Regions from separate parts of the Homo sapiens genome. Here regions 2 and 3 are each linked to region 1. The links come from fine-mapping of genetic effects on gene expression. A gene starts in region 1. Each other region holds a variant in brackets. All regions are shown on one strand. Distances are between the middles of the regions.

Evidence for each region.
Region 2: its variant is fine-mapped to the expression of CDKN1C in tibial nerve (GTEx, PIP above 0.99).
Region 3: its variant is fine-mapped to the expression of CDKN1C in whole blood (INTERVAL, PIP above 0.99).

The regions. Positions count from the first base shown.
Region 1 is chr11:2,884,191-2,886,937 of GRCh38, reverse strand. CDKN1C (cyclin dependent kinase inhibitor 1C) reads left to right here and starts at 1,163. Exons shown (of 4, transcript NM_001122630.2): 1 at 1,163-1,304; 2 at 1,472-2,268. The coding sequence starts at 1,482. RefSeq lists enhancers at 1-501, 502-1,337, 1,338-2,173.
Region 2 is chr11:2,730,241-2,732,987 of GRCh38, reverse strand. All of the region lies in intron 11 of KCNQ1 (potassium voltage-gated channel subfamily Q member 1), which reads right to left. Among named protein-coding and RNA genes, the nearest start is that of KCNQ1OT1, 32 kb to the right of the region's middle. RefSeq lists an enhancer at 1,071-1,240. The variant C/T (reference allele first, on the strand shown) is at 1,609.
Region 3 is chr11:2,835,698-2,838,444 of GRCh38, reverse strand. The region is part of intron 15 of KCNQ1 (potassium voltage-gated channel subfamily Q member 1); the gene reads right to left. Among named protein-coding and RNA genes, the nearest start is that of KCNQ1-AS1, 24 kb to the left of the region's middle. RefSeq lists enhancers at 1,742-2,608, 2,609-2,747. The variant G/A (reference allele first, on the strand shown) is at 1,380.

The sequences.
Region 1 (2,747 bases):
CAGCAGGAAATAATGGTCTCTTTTGGTCTGGCCTGGCTGGGGTGAAGCACCGTGTGTGTGCGTGCGTGTGTGTGTGTGTGTGTGTGTGCGTGCGCGCACGACCGAGGTCTGTACCAGGAAGGGCTGCAGGCGGGGGAGGGGCATGGTCCTTCACAGCCCCTTCCCCTATGACCTCGGGCAGATCTTTCACTTTTACCCAGTACAACAGCTTCCAGCCAGCCTGGACAGGCAGATCCCGGGGCTGGAGTGGTCTGGCCCAAGGCTGAGAAGGGCTGGGACCCCCGACAGTGACATGATGGGCTCAGCCCCTGTTCCATCTACTGGGCAGGGTGGGCCTCCGCAGATAGCGGCTTCAGACTCCAGCTCCAGGGGGCTGGTGGGAGTCTCTCAAGGTGTCCCACACATGGTCCCTCGGGGAAAGAGTGGAGCTGACCCCTGTCCCCCCTCCCGACTCGAGGGCCTTAGGGCCAGCAGGTGTGTGAGGGCTCCAGGCGCGCGGAGCCCTCGAAGGGACACCAGCCCAGCAGCAGCAGGCCGCGCGGGGGCAGCCGAAGACCCCATCCGGCGCAGGCCAGGGCCGAGCTGGCAGCGGCGGGTCCAAGCCTCGTCAGCTGGCGCAGGAGGCCCACGGGCGAGCGCGGGACGGAGCTGGGCGCCGGGGTCCGGACCGGGCCGGGGTCGAGTTGGGCCTGGCCGGACACCGGACCCGCCAGGAGCCGGCCCCTGCCGCGCTGGGCTGAGGCCCCCGCCTGCAGACAAAGGAGCCGGCGGGGGGCGGGAGCCGGGGGGGTGGGGGAGTGTTGCAGGGGGGATGGGGCGAGGGGGCGGGCGTCGCGGTGTCACGTTACCGCCCGCAGCGCCCTTTAACTCCCGCCCCCGCCCCGCTCACCGCCCCCTTCCCCTGCTACAGCGCGCTCGCCCCGCGGCCGCCAATCAGCCGCGCGCCCCGGCCGCGCGCCCCGCCCCGCCCCCGGTGGGTGTGCGCGCGGCCAATGGGCGGTGCGCGGGGGCCGGGCCGCGGCGGGGCGGGGCAGCGGGGCGGCCGCCAATCGCCGTGGTGTTGTTGAAACTGAAAATACTACATTATGCTAATCGCGGCCGGGCCCGCGCGCACGGGGGTGGGGCCCGCGCGTATAAAGGGGGCGCAGGCGGGCTGGGCGTTCCACAGGCCAAGTGCGCTGTGCTCGAGGGGTGCCGGCCAGGCCTGAGCGAGCGAGCTAGCCAGCAGGCATCGAGGGGGCGCGGCTGCCGTCCGGACGAGACAGGCGAACCCGACGCAGAAGAGTCCACCACCGGACAGCCAGGTAGCCGCCGCGTCCCTCGCACACGCAGAGTCGGGCGGCGCGGGGTCTCCCTTGCGCCCGGCCTCCGCCCTCTCCTCCTCTCCTTTCCCCTTCTTCTCGCTGTCCTCTCCTCTCTCGCTGCCCGCGTTTGCGCAGCCCCGGGCCATGTCCGACGCGTCCCTCCGCAGCACATCCACGATGGAGCGTCTTGTCGCCCGTGGGACCTTCCCAGTACTAGTGCGCACCAGCGCCTGCCGCAGCCTCTTCGGGCCGGTGGACCACGAGGAGCTGAGCCGCGAGCTGCAGGCCCGCCTGGCCGAGCTGAACGCCGAGGACCAGAACCGCTGGGATTACGACTTCCAGCAGGACATGCCGCTGCGGGGCCCTGGACGCCTGCAGTGGACCGAAGTGGACAGCGACTCGGTGCCCGCGTTCTACCGCGAGACGGTGCAGGTGGGGCGCTGCCGCCTGCTGCTGGCGCCGCGGCCCGTCGCGGTCGCGGTGGCTGTCAGCCCGCCCCTCGAGCCGGCCGCTGAGTCCCTCGACGGCCTCGAGGAGGCGCCGGAGCAGCTGCCTAGTGTCCCGGTCCCGGCCCCGGCGTCCACCCCGCCCCCAGTCCCGGTCCTGGCTCCAGCCCCGGCCCCGGCTCCGGCTCCGGTCGCGGCTCCGGTCGCGGCTCCGGTCGCGGTCGCGGTCCTGGCCCCGGCCCCGGCCCCGGCTCCGGCTCCGGCTCCGGCCCCGGCTCCAGTCGCGGCCCCGGCCCCAGCCCCGGCCCCGGCCCCGGCCCCGGCCCCCGCCCCGGCCCCGGCCCCGGACGCGGCGCCTCAAGAGAGCGCCGAGCAGGGCGCGAACCAGGGGCAGCGCGGCCAGGAGCCTCTCGCTGACCAGCTGCACTCGGGGATTTCGGGACGTCCCGCGGCCGGCACCGCGGCCGCCAGCGCCAACGGCGCGGCGATCAAGAAGCTGTCCGGGCCTCTGATCTCCGGTGAGCCCCGCACGGCCCCGCCCCGGCCCGGCCCGGCCCCGCTTTGTCCGGCCGGCCGGTCCCCCCAGCCCTCGGGGGCCTCGCTGGGTTCCCGCCTCCTCCCGTGGCATTAAAGGGCCCGCAGCGCTCAGGGCGCGGCTGCGCCCTTACCCCCCTCCCCGCCCCGTTGTTGTGCCCTCCAGCGGCTTCGCGCGGGCGGGGTGGGAGGCTGAATCCCGGCCGCGACCCCCCGGGAGCGCAGTTTTCGCCCCCGGCCGCGGGAGCCCCTCCCCGGGCGCGGCCGGGCGCCGTGAGCACGGCGTGGAGGGGGTTAAGCGCGGCGGCGGCCCCGGGGGGCTTGGCCGCGGGACAAGGGGAAATGCTTACACAGCACATTGCGCGGCGACGTAAACAAAGCTGACCCGCCGCGGACCTCGGCGCGGGCGGGGACGGCGCCCCCACCCCGGCCGGCCCGCGCCCCGCGCCCTCTCCCGGCCCCC
Region 2 (2,747 bases), 150 kb after region 1:
GCTTGCTGCCTGTGGGTGGTCACCAGCCCCCAGCAGGAGCCTCGAGTTTCTGGGCCTCCAGAGGGTGGGTGGGACCAGAGCCACCCCTGCCTCAGGCAAGATGGGGCTGGGGCCCATGGGGCAGGGGAGACCGCCAGGGCAGGGGTCCCCTCCCTGGGCCCCAGTGGGTGGGACAGAGGCCCCCAGGCTCCGGCTGCAAGGCGAGGCCTCGGTGGCGGCCACAATAAATATGTTTGTTCAAGGGAAGCCAGGCTGGGAGCTGTGTGCGCCGGCCCGGTGAGGAAGAAAAGGCCGCTTGTGCCTTGCACACTGGGGCGATTGTTCCTGCTCACGCAACTGCTGCCCCGTGGCCGGAAAGGTCAGACGGCCCTCGGGCCCCGTCGGAAGCACCGGTGCCTCGGGCCCCTTCGCTCGCGCCTGCTGTAACATTCGCCTGCGCTCCTCACTGCCCGGCTGCATCCACATCACCTCCAGGCCTTGGCACGGGGAGAGAAGGTACCAGGCAAGGTCTGAAAGATGGCCCAGCAAAGGCGAGGGAAGAAACGAAGCCAGGAGTCCCCTGCCCAGCCCAGGCGTCAGGAATAGTGTGGAAAGAGGAGGCCCCAGCTGGTGGCCTCAGCACCCTGAGGGAGTGGCTCTGGCCCCGAGGGTCTTCGCAGTGCCCACGGGGCAGCTTGTTTTGTGGACTATTGTTTGGATATTGGGGGATGCCAAGGTGAGGGTTGGGGAGAGGCCCAGGAGCACATGAGAGGTGCCAGCAATGCTCCTGAGGCAAGACCAAGCATCGTCCTCACCCACCAAACAGAAGGCTGAGAGGCACTGCCTGGCCGCAGCCCCGCTTCAGAGCAAATGGAGTCGACAGAGGCCACCACGCAGGCACTCCTGGCTCTCCCACAATTTAAAAACCCTAAAGGGCAAAAATCAGGAACTCAAGCCTGGTTTCCTCCCATTCCTCTGAAGGGGGAGGAAGGAACACAGGAGCCCACGGCTTGCAGGCCACACCTCGCTGGTCCCCTGCTGGCAAGGCGGCCTCCCTCTCCTCTCCTCTCTGCAGGAGACAGCTCTGTGAGATGGCTTCATCCAAAGGGCCCTCAGAATTGTGGTCCTGATGGTGAAGGCTGTGAGCAGCCGCTGCAGTGGTGTGATCAGACGCTCTAGCTGAGTGAGTTACCCACCACTGTCTTCCACCCGGAAGAGCTGGGAGATGGGGCCATAGGAGCCTCCTGGGTGGCTGGCAGAGGGGACAGGGACTCTGGACCAGCCCTCCCCTCCCTTGCTTCAGGCGCCTTTCTCTGGGCCTCAGGCCCTCCTGTGTGCGCTGCTGGGGGTGATTCTAGGAACCTGATCTCCATGACCACAGGGTCCCCCAAAAGATGGGTCTGTTCCGGAGGGCTTGCCTCAAGCAGCGAAGGGGACTCTGACATGGGAGGAAAGCCCTCTCCTGGGTGAGAACCTGGAGCCGCACCTCCTGTCCCGAGAGATGGCCGCCCTGGGTGTCCGCCTTCCCTGTGTCCGGTGCCCGAGTGGGCGTGTGGTGGGCGGCCTGCAGTGCTGGCTCCCTTTCCCAGGCCTCTCCCGCTGACACACAGCCGGAATGTGCCAGACTCA[C/T]CAAGGCCTGAATTCCCGAGGGGTCTGGCATGCCGACTGTGGGACGAGGGCATTTGGGCATTGTTCTCTCCATGCAACAGTGGGGTGCATGGGCGGTGAGGCCCCTTGGATTCCGCCTGCCACCCTTGGCTTTATGAAGCTGCACCAGGTCTGACTCAGGCCTTGAGGAATTCAGCACCCCCTCGAGTGGGCACAGGGGACTGTACCTAGGGGCTGCCTCCCTCTGCCAGGCTGGGCAACGCAGCCCCTGCCGTGAACAGAGGTGCCTGGCTGCCCTCTCTTTCCCCCAGGTCCCTGAGGACCTTTGGGTCCAAGGTTGAGCTGTGAGGCCAAAGGAAGTGTTTGCTCCCAATGCAGGGCAACAAGGGCCTTCCTTTTCTATGAGCAAAGCTGGGCTCCCAGAGAGCGGCGGCTGGGAGGAGGCTGGGCCGGGGCTCTCATTTCTGTAGTTGGTTCAGCTGGGGGCAGCCTCTGGTCCATCTGGCCTGGTGCCCAGCCCTGCTTCTGGCCACAGCCACAGAGGCCTGCCACCAAAACGGCTCCAGCGTCTGTCCCCCATCCCTCCATTCTTCCCTCCTCTGCCCTTCGAAACCACCATTACTGAAGAACCCTGCGTCTCCCAGGGGCAGCCCCTCTTGGACCACCTGCAGCAGTTCATACCATAATCCGCCTCCCCCAGGGTAATGGGGCCTGGATAGGGAGACTCTGTGGCCATACAGGTCTCACCTCTGCACTGGATGCCTAGGGACAAAGTCCACCTGCCTCCTGGGGCCTCCCAGGCCCCCTGCAGTCTGTCTCTGCCAGACCCCACCACGCTGCTATTGACCGGCTCCTCCAGATCACCCCTGCACTCCCCATAAGAGAAAGAGGGAGGAAGGGAGGTTGTGAAGAGCGCAGGACAGAAGCAGAGACAAGGGGGCCGTGGGGAAAGGCCACAAGCCAAGGGAGGTGGGGCCTCCCTTTGAGCTTCCAGTGGGAACCAGCTCTGCTGGCTCCTTGAATGTAGCCCATGTCGGACATCTGACCTCCAGAGCTGTTAGATAATAAACGTGTCACTTAAAGCCACTAAGTTTGTGGGAATTCATTACAGCAGCCGTAAGAAGCTAAAATGGTCCCTCTCAAAACAGTCCTGAATCTAC
Region 3 (2,747 bases), 48 kb after region 1:
CTCAGTGGCTCCGGATCAATGCCAGAGTCCGCTCACAACCCTGTGGTCTGGCCCAGCCCCCATCCCTGGCCTCACTCTGCAGCCTGCTTCCCGGCGCGCCGGTCCCTGGCCCCCAGCCCCAAGCCTGCTTCCTTCTTTCTGCATGCCGTTTCACACTCCTCCAGGTGCCTGACGGGCATGTGGATAGTTTGGCACCTGTCCCCCGACCCTGCCAGTGGCTGTGAGCCACGTGAGGTCAGTCTGGCTTCCTTCCATCCCCACCTCTGTCTGCCTGGTCCCTACTGGTGGTGTTTGCTTCTCAGAAGTAGGTCCCCTTCCTGAAACTGCCCTTGGCGTGCAGCAGGTATACCCTAAATATTCCTGAATTTGGGACGGGACGTTTCTGGGCTGGCTTCCTCAGTCTGTCCCACGTTGCCACCATTTTTCTCTAAGACAGAGGCCTCTGGGGCCCATGACCCCCTCTCCTTCCTGCAGACAGAGAAAGCACCGGCACCTGCTGATCTCCCACACCACAATGTCCACTTGCTGGGCGAGAACCTTTGAGGCATCCCTGCTGTTCTCGAGATACCAGCCTCGGCTGAGGGTCCCTCGCCGCCGGCCCCTGTGGCCCCCTGGGCGCCGCCCTTCTCGCCCCAGAGCCGGTTTCCTCTGGTTCCTACCTCAGGACCCTCACATGGGCTGGCCCTGCCTCCTGGAGCATCCACCCCTCTCCTTAGCCTCCAGACCCTTCTCATTCTCCAGGCCCCAGGTGAGGGTCTCCTTGGTGAGGCCCCCTCCCTTCCCCCTCCTGGTTTGGCTGTGGCCACTTCCCCTGCTTTCCATCCCCCACCTCTGTCTGCCCGGTTCCTGCTGGTGGTGTGTGCTTCTTAGAGGCCGCCTCCCCGAGGGCAGGGCACTGCACAGCCAACAACAGTTCAATGGCCTCTTGCTCGCTGGGAGACCCTGGGCCTTGGTCACCTCTCGAGCAGGGAGGGGCCGGGGAGTCTGTTCTGTGGCACAGTGCAGCCTGGGGGCTCAGGCCCGGGCGTGTCTGGGAACGGAGGCTGTGAGCGCGGAGCGGGCTCTCCTGGGCCCCAGGCCACTCCCTGGGCCTGAAGGGAGGGGCTCAGGGGAAGGATGAGGCCCCTCGTCCCCAGCTCCCTGGGCACCACTGAGAGGCCTCTGGCCACCTCCGTCCCTCAACATTGGCCACGCCCACAGCCTGCTGTGTTCTGTCTCCACCCAGGCCTCTCCCCGGGCGCTCTTGGCTGTCCCTGCTGGCTCAAGACGGTGTCCTCTCTCTGGACACTCGAGAGGCTGCCCAGGGTGCTCCCAAACACGCACACCATGTGAGCCTCTTCCTCCGCCCTACGTGCCCCATCCTGCCCATCCCCAGGAGA[G/A]GGCTGCCATGCCCCGTGCCCCCAGCCCACGGGCTCTCTGCGGCTGGGGTGCTTGTCTTCCTGAACCCTTTCTGTGAACGCCTCACATGTTTGCTTCAAAATTAGTCTGTGTACAGGGTTTTTCATGGTATAAGTACCCTATGAAGACGTTCTCCCGCCAAATAAAGACATTTCAAAGACACATCTCCATTTCACCTGCCCCATTTCCCTCTAGGGCCCCTGCCTGCCAGGTAACCAGCTTAGGGATCTGATGTTTCTCCTTCCAGCAACTTTGATACGCAGCTCGTGCCTGGTTCTGCCTGGTCAGCGAGGTTTAGCACGAGTGAGGCGAGGCGTGATGTGACACACATGTGGCTCTCCACTGCTTGTTTCCATGCGACACACTTGTGGAGGCTGCACGTAGAATCACGGGGACAGTGCTGGCTCCTGGGACGGCTGTGCAGCCCTCCTTTCTGTGGGGATTGCTGACATCACCACCCAGTCCCTGCTGGTGGGCGTGGAGGCTGAGGGCTCCACAGGCCAAGTCTTTCTGCCTACATGTGCTGGTGTTCGGGGGGAGGGGTCCCCTCTTCTGGGGAGCTTGGTGGCAGCAGCCAGGCTGTGCTCTCCCACCTCCTCCCCTTGGAGTGCAGTCCGGCCTCACCCTCTACCTCCTGGGTGAAAACTTCTACCTCCGGCCTGAAACGTCACCATGCCTCCCCACAGACAGACGGATGGACAGATGGGCCTCCCTGCACCTGCTCTGTGGGTGTGGGGGCTCCTGCTCAGCAGCAGTTTCCAGACCCTTCTCCCTGCTTTCCCCAAGCCACCCGCCTTGAATCTGGGGTGCTCTACCAGACCCATCCCCTCATTTCTAAAGATTTGAGCCACTAGTCGTGTCCCTCTCCCTCAGAAATGCCTTGGTGACACTTGGCTGCTTTCAACTCTTCCACCCATCTGCCTCTTGGTCTCATCTTTACCTTCTGCTAAAGGTCCTGACCCCCACCCCCGCCACGCCACGGGGCACCCCATGGTGGTGCGTCCTTGGGAGCAGCTCTGTCCCTTTCCCCGTGGCCTTTGCCCCGCCTCCTATGACTTCGATTCCCACCTGTCCCCGACCCCTGGGACCACTGACCGGGCCCGATCACCCTGTCACTGCCCTGTCATCTGCTTACCCCACACGGTGCTCTGCTGACCCAGGTCTTGCTGTCTCCCAACAGCCCCACGAGGCTTCCCGTCGCTCCTGGACACTGCAGGCTGAGCCCGCTGCCCCGCCGCCTCCATGAGGAAGGCTTTTCCTCTGTGAGCCCCAGGCCACCCTTTCCCTCCTTTAAGTAATTACTTAAGTCCCTTGCCAGGGCCCTCCCAGTACCCTTTCTAAAGACACCC